Linked DNA regions of Homo sapiens. The protein of the gene in region 4 purifies or fractionates together with the protein of the main gene of each other region. This does not show direct contact. Each region holds a gene or a part of one and is shown on either strand. Other genes may lie near its edges.

Region 1 (3,500 bases), on a different chromosome or scaffold from region 4:
ACTCAGAGGCTCTACCCCGCCTGGAGAGGAGATAAGTGTGGACTCTGCATGCCACTAAAGCCAGGCAGGGCAGGGCCACACCTAAGGGGCTGTCCTGGGGTGTAGCCAATTGCAGTTTAGGGGGACCTCAGGAGGCAGCTCCTGGGGGCAGGCCATGGGGCAGGGTGCTTGTACAGATCCTGAGGCTCAGGCACACGCCATCTGCCTTCACGTGTCTCCCCTTTCCACTCACTGTTAGCAGGCTTGCACTGTTTTCCTTCTCACACATCCACCAGGCTCTTCAAATGAGGCTTGGGTCTGTGGGTTTCTTATTATAGTTTAGTTTCTTGTGAGGTCTTTTTCCCAAAGGTCACAATCACTGAGCGCTGCCTTGACCCAGTATGGGGAAGAGGTGGAGAAGCCAATGGGGGTAGTTTTCCCAACTCAAGCTTAGGGATGAGGGGAGAGGACAGCTTAGTCATGGCCAAGGGGTCAGGAAGGTGTGGGGGCAGTGGAAGACAGGTTGGCCTCTCTAAGGTGGTCTCTGGTACCTAAGACACTCTGTGGGGCGGGGACTGCTTCTGGGACTCCTTGATGGCTGTCCCTGCCTGGGGCAAGGCCTCTCTGCCTGCCTACCCAGGCTGACACTGTTTCTGTTTGTTGTGTCTGGCTGTCCCTGTACCTCCCCTGTTCTCTCCAGGCCGTGGTGTCTGCAGCCCAGGCAGGCCTGCTCCGGCAGCAGGAAGAACTGGACAGGAAAGCTGCCGAGCTGGAACGCAAGGAGCGGGAGCTGCAGAACACTGTAGCCAACTTGCATGGTAAGGGAGGCTGCTGGGGCCTGGGGCTGCCCTGCCTGGCATAGAAGAGTGTCCTGAAACCTGTGCGGAGGGCCTCCCAGCATTCACCCTGAGCTGCCTTAGAGTTTTGTGGGGCTCTTCTCATCACAGGATGCTGGTCCTGGGAAGAGCAGTAAGTTGCAAGTCAGGAGACCTGCAGTGTAGTTGTAATGGCTGTAGATTACTTCTGCACTCCTTCCTAGCTCTCAAATTCCTTGATTCTTTGATAGCATAGGGGCTTTGGTCCCACAATTCCTTGCTAATGATGATGAACTGAGTTCTCACACTTATGGGCTGCTTGTTAATAAAAATAATCACTTAGGCCATTTAGCTGTCTGTATTTCCCAGTGCATTTGGGGTCTTTTATCTCCATGTGAGCTTGTTGGTATCTCTTTGGGTTCCATTATCCTGTTCTGTCCCACTCCATGCTCCATGCAGACTCCAAGCCCCGCTTGCTGGAGCCCCTCTGGGAACCCTGGTTTGGCCCATACACTATGCTGGCGTGCATGCACCTTGATGCCCCTTCTGAGGCTGGGCCCTTACCTCGTCACTCTTTTTGCCCTACCCAGTGAGACAGAACAACTGGCCCCCTCTGCCCTCGTGGTGCCCTGTGAAGCCCTGCTTCTATCAGGATTTCTCCACAGAGATCCCTGCCGACTACCAGCGGATATGCAAGATGCTCTACTATCTGTGGATGTGTGAGTCCCACTCCTGCCTTCCAAGCGCAAGGGCGAATTGGGTGTGACTTGAGAGCCCCATCTTGGTCCTGGCTGCTCCTCCCTGGTATACAGGCTTTCAGCAGACTCCAGCCTTCCTCAGTGCCTGGGCTGGGTTGGGGAGATGCCTCTGCCCACAGGCTGCCCCCTGTCTGGAAACCTCCTTGAAAGGGGCAGTCCAGACCACCGATCAGGGAGGGTGGGACTAACTAGAGGCTTCCAAGTTCCTTCAGAGCTCACTGCACTAAAAGGCCCTCCTTAGGTGAAGGCCTTCCCTGCCCACAGGCCTGTGAACTCTGAGGGGTGAGGAAGGAGACTCCCCCTGCAGCTCCATCAGGGGCCATCCAGGGCCAGGGAAAAGCATTGCTAAGAGAAAGACTTCCTTCCCCAAGGACCAGCCCTGGGTCTGCATCCTCCCTCCACACCCCTCAGATACCCGGGCTGTCCCATCACCTCTCAGGAACGTAGTTTGATCCCTGGTTTTGAGGTCCCAGAAAACCAGGATATGGGAACTATCCCTGCCTAGGTACAGAGCGGGCTCCTCTGTTTCAGCAGCTGCCTTCGCAGCATGAACCTCACCTCTCCTAGGGAGTGGCTGCCACATTGGAGCCCCTCAGCCACTGTGGCACAAGTCATAACTCTGTCCTGTCCCCTTCCCCAGTGCATTCAGTGACTCTGTTTCTGAACCTGCTTGCCTGCCTGGCCTGGTTCTCGGGCAACAGCTCCAAGGGAGTGGACTTTGGCCTCTCCATCCTGTGGTTTCTGATCTTCACTCCCTGTGCCTTCCTTTGTTGGTACCGACCCATCTATAAGGCCTTTAGGTGAGTGAGGCCGGGGCAAGGGGTGAGACTTTATGGCTGGCATCCCAGGTAGCAGGCTAAGGGCTATAGGCCCTGGGACCCCATCTGAGTCTTAGAGCAGAATAGAATGTAGGGAAATCCACTTTCCCTACATTCTGTTCCTCTGTTCCCACCCAGAGCAGAGATTGGGGGCCCCGTTCCTCAGTTTCTGTACCTGAGGTCTGCTCTGGGCCCTGTCCTTGGACCAGGCACAGGAGACCTAGAGAAGGGACCTCCCATCCCACTGCTCCCAGTCTGGCTGATGCCGTTACTGGGAAGAGGGAGGGGACGCTCTTTGGGAACTCCCTTCTGAGGCTCTAAGGTGTGCTTCTCTGGTAGTATCAGATGAGTGCTCTCCAGGGCTCTTTCTCCATGACTATTGATGCTTCCCAATAAAGACTGCCAACACCTAAGCTAGATACTGGGAACATAGCTGGATACACCTTACAGACCCCCAGGGGTTCTGGAATTGTACCTCAGGGTTTATGCTTTCAGGGCTGGGAGCCCAGCAGGCCCTGGGAAGAGGGATTAGGGTAGTGGCTGAACCATCCCTGTACCACTGGAGGCCCTGAACCCTCACTGTGATCTAGCCCTCAAGGACACAGAGATGGAAGTCCTCAGCTCGTGAGAGAGTTTTGTCTGGTGTCCCCTGTTTCCCAAATATTTTTTTCTTCCAGTCAGATGTACAGGTTTTGTTTTTTTCTCATTGTTCTTTGTTACCACGTATCCTCAAGTTCTATTGTTTTTGTTTTGAGAGGGAGTCTCGCTCTGTCACCCAGGCTGGAGTGCAATGATGCGATCTCGGCTCACTGCAACCTCCTCCTCCTGGGTTCAAATGATTCTCCTGCCTCAGCCTCCGGAGTAGCTGGGCTTACAGGCACACACAATCACACCTGGCTAATTTTTGTATTTTTAGTAGCGATGGGGTTTCCCCATGTTGGCCAGGCTGGTCTTGAACTTGTGACCTCAAGTGATCCACCTGTCTCGGCCTCCCAAAGTGCTGGGATTACGAGTGTGAACCACCGTGCCCAGCCTGTTTTGTTTTTTTGAGACAGAATCTCAGTCTGTTACCCAGGCTGGAGTGCAATGGCGCAGTCTCGGCTCACTGCAACCTCCGCCTCCCAGGTTCA
Region 2 (3,500 bases), on a different chromosome or scaffold from region 4:
ACAACATTTTAGAGGTCATGAGACTTGACTCCAAAGTCCTAGAGGTCTTTGGTCAAAGGTCAAAAGAGGCTGGGCATGGTGGCTCACACCTATAATCCCTGCACTTTGGGAGGCCCAGGCGGGTGGATCACTTGAGACCAGCCTGGCCAACATGGTGAAACCCCTTCTCTGCTAAAAATACAAAAATTAGCCAGGCATGGTGGCAGGCACCTGTAATCCCAGCTACTCGGGAGGCTGAGGCACGAGAATTGCTTGAACCTGGGAGCTGGAAGTTGCAGTGAGCTAAGATCGCGCCATTGCACTCCAGCCTGAGCAATAGAGCAAGACTCCATCTCAAAAAAAAAAAAAAAAAGATCAAAAAGAGGCGTACACACCAGAAGGAGTGCCCAGGGTAAGACTGGGAATTCCGACCCCAAAAGTGGACCCCTGCCAGGTCCCTCAGAGTTCCCACCACGGCGAAAGCTACTTCTTGAGCAGAGCCCACCAATCCCAGGAAGTCAAAGGGCAAAGGCCCTCCTGGATGAGGGGGTGTGTGCACAGCTGACTGTGCCTGGGTCTGTCACTGCCTCCCCAGCCACCCTAATCTTACTGCTCAGTTCTCCACCCAGCAGTAAGCTCACTCTCTCTAGATTGGAAATGAGGTGTTGCTCCCCAGCAAGCACACGTGAAAAACTTCCAAATGGGGCCAAAGTATGTTGCACAAGGTCCTGAAAAGCAGAAAGAACACCCGGAAGAGGTACATGAAGACCAAATGCCAAAACGGACTTTTAGTAACTAACCATCCCAAAGAGTGGGCAGAAGACAGACCGACCCAAAGCGGGATAGGGACCCACATGTGTGCCCAAACCAACAAGTTCTTGTGCAATGTTAATGATTCCTCTGGAGACAAGGGAAGGAAGTGACCCCACTTCCGTTTCTACATTCCTCCTCAGCATGACGCCACAGCTATGAGAGATGTTTTCTCAGCATGGAAGCCATATGTCCAGGGCTTAAAGACAGTACAGCTCTGAGAAAGGAAACTGCAAAGAAAATGCTACTCTCACTCTTCCAAAGCAGCAAAGGAGAGTGCGCTGAAATGAGGCTTGCCATGGCCTGGCAGATCAGACTGTTCGAGAAAGAGGGGATGTGGCAGGCACAAGAGGAAAGCCATCCAAAAGGAATAGAAAAGGGATCAGGGGTCAGGCACGGTGGCTCATGCCTGTAATCCCAGCACTTTGGGAGGCCGAGGCAGGCAGCTCACCTGAGGTCAGGAGTTCAAGACCAGTCTAGCCAACATGGTGAAACCCCGTCTCTATGAAAAATACAAAAAATTAGCTGGGTGTGGTGGCGCATGCCTGTAGTCCCAGCTACTCCAGAGGCCAAGGCAGGAGAATCACTTGAACCTGGGAGGTAGAATTTGCAGTGAGCCAAGATCTCGCCACTGTACTCCAGCCTGGGTGACAGAGCGAAGTCTCTCTCTTTAAAAAAAAAAAAAAAAAAAAAAAAAAAGGGATCAAGGATGGGGCATGATATAGCACTACCTATGACAGGTTTTGTAATCAGGCAGAGCTGGGTTCAAATTGTGACTACATTATTTCTGGGCTGCTTAAACTTAAGCAAGTTATTTCATCACAGAACCTTGGTTTCTTCATGTGTACAACAAACAAGACACCTACTGGAGAGAGAAACTGTCTCAAATTATCTTTTTTCTCTACTCTCACACCATAATCATCAACACAAGAGACTTCTGTGACCAAATGTGAGGGGGTTTCTTCCCCACACACCAACCAGCGGACAGCAGCTGGGTATCCTCTCATTCAGTTCCCATGCTGTCTACCTGGAGAGAGTGTCAGATCCCACAGGTTGAGGGCTCAGTCCCCAGGACTGCCCCGCCTCTCCACCACCACCCCTCAAACATACCAGTTGCAAGTCTGGGCCTCCAGAATTTCTCACCGACTGGCTTCAGGCTGGGGTTCCCATGACCCCCTCTTTGAGTTCAATTAATTTGATGGAGCAGCCTACCTAGCCCAGGGAAACACTTACTTACGTTTACCAGGTTATTATGAGGGATATCGCAAAGGATACAGATAAGGAGACGCTTAGGGCGAGGTATGGGGGAAGAGGCGTGTAGTTTCTGTGCCCTCCCTGAGCAGGCCTCTCTCTAGGAACCTCCGTGTGTTCAGCTATCCACAAGCTCCCTGAACTCTGTCCTCTTGGATTTTTATGGAAGCTTCATGACATCAGCATTCCTTCCCCCAGGATACAGGGTCCACCCCTCTCAGGGGAGGGTTTTAAGGCCCACAATCAGGTGGGGAAAGATTAGGGTGGAAGGAGAGCAGAAGGTCAGAGGCCTGCCCCTGAGGCCTAACACATCTAACATTATATCAAAAAACCATAACAAGGGCTGTGGATAGGAGTTATGAGCCTGGATCCGTGGATGAAAACCAATATCCTAATACCACAATACCATCTAAACTGTGAGAAGACTAAAGTTGATGACGCAAGCAACATGCTTCACTACAGTAAGAGCTAAAGGCAGCTTTACATGTTATAAAACAATAACAACAAACTCTACCAGCAAGATCACAAGACTCTCTCCATGAACACCCAGCCTTCAGGGAGGGCAGAGGCAACTCCGCCAACTCACACCACACACACCACTCCCTTACCCGCTATCACGGAGATCAAATAAACAGGTCAGCTGGGGAAGGATCAGCGATACCCCACTCCAGAAGTGACTTGCTGCAGGAAGCAAGTTCCCTGCCATCAGAAGCAGGTGCTTTTAAGTTCTGGTCAATGTTTGCAAGCCCAGGAGATATAAAACCAAAAGCATTAGTGCTCACTAACTGCAAGACTCGACAGCGTGTACACCAGTAGAAGCTTGGGAGCTCCAGGTTACAAGGTCTGCTGGGAGTTCAGCCGGTCCAGGAGCCTCCCTGCTCTCACTAATACCCAGCCTGCAGCTGCATCCAAACCCCTGGCGTAAAACCTACTGTCAACCCCTCCAAACTCTGCCTGATTTATCTGGCTCTGCTAACTTGCAAGCTGAGATTCCACATCTGTGTTGCATGAGCTGCTTTCTGCCTGGAATCCTCCTTCCTTTTCCACCCATTTGGCATACTCCTACTGTCCTTCTAGACCCAACTCAAGTGTCACCCGCTCCATGAAGCCTCCTCTGATGCCTCATAGAGAACAAACAACATCACAGACTTCTGGTTTTTATCACATCCTGTGTTCCCCAATTATCTCAAGGCTTTGACTGCTGACTCCCTACTCCTCCAGGGTGATGCAGGGCAGCTGGGTTCCTCCTCTGCCTCTGGAAAGCCTTGATAATCTCTGCTTCACCACAGACCTTGCCACAGGCACGTGGGGACCATCCTGCAAGCATAGCCTGAGAGCCCAGCTCCAACATCAGTGACACACTAAGCGTCACACTTCAAGCTGTGACTGCCTCATAAGTGCTCTGGAGATTACTGTTTTGGATAGTTTCTGGCAGCACTTCCCAAAGCGTGGTCCACAGA
Region 3 (3,500 bases), on a different chromosome or scaffold from region 4:
GCTGGGCGTGGTGGCGCTTGCCTGTAGTCCCAGCTACTTGGGAGGCTGAGGCAGGAGAATTGCTTGAACCCGGGAGGCAGAGGTTGCAGTGAGCCAAGATTGTGCCACTGCACTCCAGCCTGGCGACAGAGTGAGACTCCATCTCAAAAAAAAAAAGAGAGAAAATGAAACCCAAGGAATTTTTCCATAACATAAGTTACACGAGCCCGTCATATAAATCATTGGGAAAAAGAGGATGAGTTTCTAAAATTTCACCTTAAGGCAACTTTAAATGGCTATGTCTGTGTAAAGTATCATGCATTCTGACCTGGAAATTTATAGTTAAACCTATCAAACTAGAAAAATCTTAATGATTTAAAATTAGTAAAACTTCATTAAACTTGACTTTAAAAGTGAGATTACAGGCAAGGCACAGTGGCTCATGCCTGTAATCTCAGCACTTTGGGAGGCTGAGATGGGCAGATTGCTTGAGCCCAGGAATTGAAGACGAGCCTGGGCAACATGGCAAAACCCCATCTCTACAAAAAATACAAAAAATTAGCTGGGCGTGGTGGCACGTGCCTGTAATCTCTGCTATCTGGGAGGCTGAGGTGGGAGGATTGCCTGACCCCAGGTGGTTGGGGCTGCAGTGAGTTGTGATCATGCCACTGCACTCCAGTCTGGGTGAAAGAGTGAGACCCAGTCTCAAAAAAGTAAAAAAAAAAAAAGGGAGATTACAACTACTTGGGAGGCTGAGTTGGGAAGAATGCTTGAGCCTAGGAATTCTGAGCAATGTGTCGAGACCCCATATATTAAAAAAGTGAGATTAAAACATTAATTTATTAAATTCTTATAATCTGAGAATTTAAAAAATATAAACCTTGACAAGTGAGTCAAGGTTAAAATGCATTTTGAAATTTTCTTTTGTGGGTGGGTCCATTTTTTTTCTGAGACGGTGTTTTGCTCTGTCACCCGGGCTGGAGTGCAGTGGCGTGATCTTGGCTCACTGCAACCTCTGCCTCCTGGGTTCAAGTGATTCTCGTGCCTCAGCCTCCTGAGTAGCTGGGATTACAGGCACGTGCCACGGCGCCTGGCTAACTTTTGTACTTTTTTTAGTAGAGACAGGTTTCACCATGTTGGGCAGGCTGGTCACAAACTCCTGACCTCAAGCGATCCGCCGACCTTGGCCTCCCAAAGTGCTGGGATTACAAGTGTGAGCCACTGCCCCCGTCCTGGGTGGGTCCTTTATGTCAGCTTGTAGAAGACCTGGCTTCTTTTTTTTTTTTTTAATTTAATTTAATTTTCTTTTTTTTTTTTTTTTTTTGAGAGAAGACTTGGCTTCTTTGAAACATAGGTAATGTTTTTCATACAGTGAAGAAACTTGTATTTTAAACATTTGTTTAATATAAGAGTTCTGTTTGGTCACTAAAGTAGTATAAAACAGTAACTGTGATGATTATGTACAGTTTAACATATTCTATATTAAGATTTAGAAAAATATTCTAAGTTAATAGTCATTAAAGTAAAACAGTTTAATGATATTTAAAATTCTGGCAAAATCAAAGTAACATTATAAAATTGTTTATCTTTCAGGAAAGGTCCTCAAAGATTCAGTGTGCTTGGTTACTGGTATTCTTAGCAGGATCTTCTGTTCTTTTATATTACACCTTTCATTCTCAGTCACTTTATTACAGGTAATTAGAGGTCCAAATACACAATTACATTTTTAATGTAATCATATATTTCATAGCACTTTGTATCTTACTTCACATAGTACTTATTGTATTCAGTTCAGTTCAGTTTTTAACTTTCTCCTTTCATAAGCGAGAGCTTTTTTTTTTTTTTTCTTTTTGAGACGGAGTCTCACTCTCTCGCCCAGCCTGGAGTGCAGTGTCTTGATCTTGGCTCACTGCAACCTTTGCCTCTCAGGTTCAAGCAATTCTCCCGTCTAAGCCTCCTGAGTAGCTGGGATTACAGGCACACGCCACCACGCCTGGCAAATTTTTGTATTTTTAATAGAGACGGAGTTTCACCATGTTGGTCAGACCTCCTGACCTCGTGATCTGCCTGCCTCCACCTCCTAAAGTGCTGGGATTACAGGTGTGAGCCACTGCACCCAGCCTCATAAGTGAGAGCTTTAAGTGACTTACTCAGATTTTGTATCCCCAGTGCCTTGGCACATAACAGATGCTCAATAAATATTTAATTTTTTGATACCTGAGTTTTTGTTTACATATTTCGTATTTTTAAAGTACCATTAGGTTGTTATTATTGGTCGTTGTTTCTGAAAGTAAGAACACTTACTAAATGACAGTAGCTGATAAGTCTCCATGTCAAATGGGAGTATTCTGAATTTTCAGCTTTTATTAGAATATTAGAAGACCTGGTTTCACTGGAGTTGGAGAGATGGGCAAATCTGGGATATAGTTTGGAGGTGGAGCCAGTATCCCTCAGATGGACTGGATTGGATAGGTGGGTGGAGAGAAGCAAGAATGACCTCTGGGTTTTTAGTCTAAGCAGCTGGCTGGATGGTGGTGTCATTTCATTGGGTTGAGGAAGGAACTGATTTTGAGGAGAAAAATCAATAATTTTGTTTTGAACATGTTAAGTTTGAGAGGCTAAGTAGAATTGATAAGAAAGTGGTTCCAAATATATGTCATGAACTCAGGGTAGAGGTTAAGGCAATAAATTTTGGTATCAGGAGCATATGGTTGATATTTAAAAACCACAGGACTGGACAAAACTAACCCAGGAAAGAGAGTGTAGATAGAGAGCCCAGTACTGGACATGACCACAATTAGAAGAGAAACAGCAAAGGAGACTAAGAAGAAACCAGCAGTGAAATATGAGAAATAGAAAAGTGTTGTGTTAAAAGTCTAGAAAGAAAATTATTCAGGGAGGGAAGATGGAAAAAGAGAGTGACCTTGAAATTTAGCCATACAGAGGGAGTTGATGATCTTGACAAGCAATTCATTGAAAGGAAGAGATGGAATCCTGATTGGAATTGGTTAAGAAAAACACAGCAGATGTCTGGTATTGATGAGTTTTTTTCATTTACAGGCTAGAAAGGTGTCAACTATGACAAACCGTGAAGACTTTTTCCTTATTCTATGAAGGGAAGATCTAAAATCCAAACAGGTTTAAAAAGTCTCTTTAAGCAAAATGATCCTCCATTCCATTATTGTGAACTCTGACATCCTGCCAAACTCATATTTTTTACATATCAAAATAAAATATTTGTAGCAAATTAAAACCCTTTATTAATACTTTATCTTTGTATGTTGCTCTGATAAATTTTGATGTTTTTCTTTTGGTAGCTTAATTTTTTTAAATCCTACTTTGGACCATTTGAGCTTCTGGGAAGTATTTTGGATTGTTGGAATTACAGACTTCATTCTGAAATTCTTTTTCATGGGCTTAAAATGCCTTATTTTATTGGTGCCTTCTTTCATCATGCCTTTTAAATCTAAGGTAAGAAACTCACTTATGCTTTATTGGAGTGATGTTATCGAATCACATTA
Region 4 (3,500 bases):
AGGCATGCATTGCTCTGCTCTTCAACACTTTAACAAAGCACATATAGATCCAGAGAGAAAAGCTAGTGTAATGGGAACATAGGCAGCTCAGTAGAAAATACATCTGCTCTGAAGTTCTCATGAGTAAAAAAGAACAAAACATAATTACAATTTAAAAAAAAAAAAAAAAACCCACAAGAAAACAAATACACCCCCTACTAATGAGTCCAAGAAGAGAACTACAAATACACATCCTCCAGTACTGTTAAGGAAACAGCTCTGCTTCCAGTGACTAGCTGCAAAACAGAAAGTGTCTGTTCACAACTGTCATTCACACCACGGTGACTTTCTCAAAGTCTCCTCTGGGTAATAAACCTCTTTAGGAGTCTGTCAATGCACACCTTAAGCAAGTAGACTGCAACTCTTTTTAACTTGTGTTCCCCAGAATGTGTCCTCCCTTTGTGTGCTGAGCATCATTTAGCTAAGAGGATGCTGTTGCTTTTACTTGTGGTTAACTGTGTTACAACTCTTGTAGATATTTTCATTGTTTTTTTTCTTCAAATTAACCTTCTTGCCATCCCTTTCTGATCTGACCTCGATAGGGGTCATCCCCAAACATCTTCCCTTGAGATACTTGTCTCTTGAAACAGAACTAAAGGCAACGCTGCATCCCCTTAGGAAATCCAGTTCAGTGTGCCATTTTCAGGTGGCCTTGTGCTAGTAAAACAGAGCAAGCCTCTGCTGTCATAAGTCAAAGCTACATAACAGATAAGAAAAGTTGTTAGTAACATATTCTAACTAATGTCTACAAAACACAGTCAATGCCTATGTGTGCAGATATATGATTTGGGATGACAGTACCTTATTTGAGAGGAAAAATACACTGCACAAAGGTAATGTATTGACAGGGTCAACTGTTTTTTTGAAAGGCCTACATTTTTTAATTTTCATCTCTACATAAGGTGATGTTGTGTTTGTGGGACATTCAAAGAGCCACAAGGGAGGTAGCATAACGTAATCATTAAAAGCATGAAATTTGGAGCCAGATTCTTTGGATTTAAATACCAGTTTCATCATCTGCTAGTTGTGAGACCTTGATCAAGTTATTCAAATTCTCTTTCTGTGTTTCCTCATCTGTAAAAATGGGAATAATCATAGCACTTACATAATAGGGTTGTTCTGAGGATTAAATGAGCTATATTTGCAAAGCACTTAGACAGAGATATGTACATATCTGTTAAATAAAATGCTACACAGATTTCAGGAGTCATACAAAGAGCTAAATGCAATATAACTCTTTACACCAGCAGCAAAAGTTTAAAATGGGCTTGTGAGGACACACAGAAACTAAAATGACACATTACTGAACTGGGTATGAGATTTCAAAAGTGTTGTTAAAGATTAAATATATAGTGCTGGACTCTCGTCTTGAACTCCTGGCCTCAAGCAATCCCTCTGCCTCAGCACCCCAAAGTGCTGAGATTACAGATGTGGGCCATCATGCCCCGCCCCCTAAACATATTTAATCTTTCTAACATTGGCACTAAAATATGCCTAAATGTGCTTTACATTCCTGTGTAGTTCCAGACCAAGCCTGGCCTCTGTGTGACCTTGGGAAACACACTCCACCTTTCTCTGTCCCTGAATTGTCATTTTAAAACTAAAGGAACTGGACTACCTGTTTGATCTTTAAGGCCCAACTCTGATAGTCCCAGGAAGGTGGCAGCCCAAGTCTTAAGGAAAATATGAAATAAAAAGAGGAAAAGTAATAGACATTTTTATAGAATTTTAAGCAAAAAAGTTACTGGGTAGGACAGAAAGCAAACCTTCCCCTTTCCTTAAATAGAAGATAAAGTCTGAGTTTGCCTCACAATTCCATTTGTACAAAGGAGCAAGTACAGGACTAGGGCCCTGGCTCACTAGCGCCCACCCTGGAGGGACTGCACCAGGAGGACTTACTCACATATGAGGGTGCAGCACAGCATACACCCTCCAGAGGACTCTTATTTGTGCAATCCCATTAGAAGCAGGGCTGCACCAGACATTAAAGGCCATATATTGTATGATTCCGTCTACATGAAATGCTCAGAATAGGCAAACTCATAGAAACAGAATGCAGATTAGTGGTTTCCAGGGGCTGGGTAGGAGGAATAGGGAGTGATTGGTGATGGTTTCCCTTTGGGGTGATAAAAATGTTTTGGAATTAGACAGTGGTGATGGTTACACAACTCTGAACATACTAGCCACTGAACTGCATACTTTAAAAGTGTACAATTTATAAGTATCTAAATTATATCTTAGCAATGGGGGGAGGTCTATCTTTATAATAAACATTTCCAGTAGTCTGCCTCCTGTTATCAGTAAAAGAGGGAAGTAAGGAGATTAAGGTAATTATGTCAACAGTTCTTGATGAAAGGAAGGCTGGAATTAGATTCCGAATTGCCTATATAAGATGGCCAAAAATTCTAGAAACTAGAAGTCAGAGATGAAAGACCCTGTTCTCAAAGAGCTCAAAGGGAAATTATGCACACGGAAAGAACAACCAGTAGGAAGAGGGGTATACAATAAGGTACTGGTTGCTCCCCAGTGAGCACTGGGCAAGTCTTCAACCATCTACATGCTCCAACGTGCAGCAGACCCTGACCAGGAGCCAGGTGCACCTGAGCTTCACTCACAGACTTCCAAAGGGAGTCCAAAGGGAGAAAAGCTAGGAAGCCAAGTGAGCTTTTCCCAATTTCATCTTTGCATCCTGCAGTCTCTTGACCCAATACTGACACTACTCCCCTTCTTGTGATGGCCCAAGGAGAGGAAACAGCAAGAGAAAGGCTGAAAGGTGAGAAAGGAAGGAAGTAAATTACTGGCAATAGTTTGGCAAGATCGCGAACTCCTTACAGAGGTCACAGCAGCCAAAGTGACCTTAAAATATAAATCGTATCATGTCACCCCCTATTTAAAACCCATCCAAGGCAATCAGAAAATGCAAACTCCCTACCACCATCTGGAATGAAATGCACACTTCTACCACTGACCCTACCTGCTGGCACCTGCACCTCTCTGGTGCCTCCCCCACCACTCTTTGCTCACACAGAGCTAAGCTGTGTGCTGCCTCAGGGCCTGACACACTCTTCTCCCTCTCCCTGGCTCTGCTCTTGGCTGGCCCCTTCTCATTCCTCAGGTCTTCTCTACCAGAACTGTTTATTTACTTTAGAGGGCTTACCACACGGTCACTACTTTGCCTATTTCTTGCCTGGGTAGACTGCTCATTCAACAAGGACAGAGAGTATGACTACCTTATTTCTTGCCATATCTAAAGTGCTACCACAGTGCCACACATGTGACTGGCATTTGATTTTTGCTAAATAGATGAACCTGTATTTTAAAAAATAACTCTGGCTAGGGAGCATAAGAGTTACAAGAGGTATGGAGAATAGTTAAAATGAAGGTGACTGCTATGGTCTGAATGTTGTGTTCCCCCAACATCCATATGTTGGGACCTAATACCCAATGTATTAGTATTAAAT

What was found.
Region 1: the proteins of REEP5 (region 4) and SCAMP2 purify together in Homo sapiens (affinity purification with mass spectrometry; 2 studies listed by BioGRID and IntAct, with this or other methods). This does not show direct contact.
Region 2: the proteins of REEP5 (region 4) and MFN2 purify together in Homo sapiens (affinity purification with mass spectrometry; 2 studies listed by BioGRID and IntAct, with this or other methods). This does not show direct contact.
Region 3: the proteins of REEP5 (region 4) and RNFT1 purify together in Homo sapiens (affinity purification with mass spectrometry; 2 studies listed by BioGRID and IntAct, with this or other methods). This does not show direct contact.

Annotation. Positions count from the first base shown.
Region 1 is NC_000015.10:74,849,366-74,852,865, reverse strand, and holds part of SCAMP2 (secretory carrier-associated membrane protein 2), read left to right. Parts: intron 1-679; coding exon 680-797; intron 798-1,384; coding exon 1,385-1,513; intron 1,514-2,192; coding exon 2,193-2,352; intron 2,353-3,500. UniProt on the Homo sapiens protein: Functions in post-Golgi recycling pathways. Acts as a recycling carrier to the cell surface.
Region 2 is NC_000001.11:11,983,444-11,986,943, reverse strand, and holds part of MFN2 (mitofusin-2), read right to left. Parts: intron 1-3,500. UniProt on the Homo sapiens protein: Mitochondrial outer membrane GTPase that mediates mitochondrial clustering and fusion. Mitochondria are highly dynamic organelles, and their morphology is determined by the equilibrium between mitochondrial fusion and fission events.
Region 3 is NC_000017.11:59,958,241-59,961,740, reverse strand, and holds part of RNFT1 (E3 ubiquitin-protein ligase RNFT1), read left to right. Parts: intron 1-1,572; coding exon 1,573-1,673; intron 1,674-3,296; coding exon 3,297-3,450; intron 3,451-3,500. UniProt on the Homo sapiens protein: E3 ubiquitin-protein ligase that acts in the endoplasmic reticulum (ER)-associated degradation (ERAD) pathway, which targets misfolded proteins that accumulate in the endoplasmic reticulum (ER) for ubiquitination and subsequent proteasome-mediated degradation.
Region 4 is NC_000005.10:112,915,728-112,919,227, forward strand, and holds part of REEP5 (receptor expression-enhancing protein 5), read right to left. Parts: intron 1-3,500. UniProt on the Homo sapiens protein: Plays an essential role in heart function and development by regulating the organization and function of the sarcoplasmic reticulum in cardiomyocytes.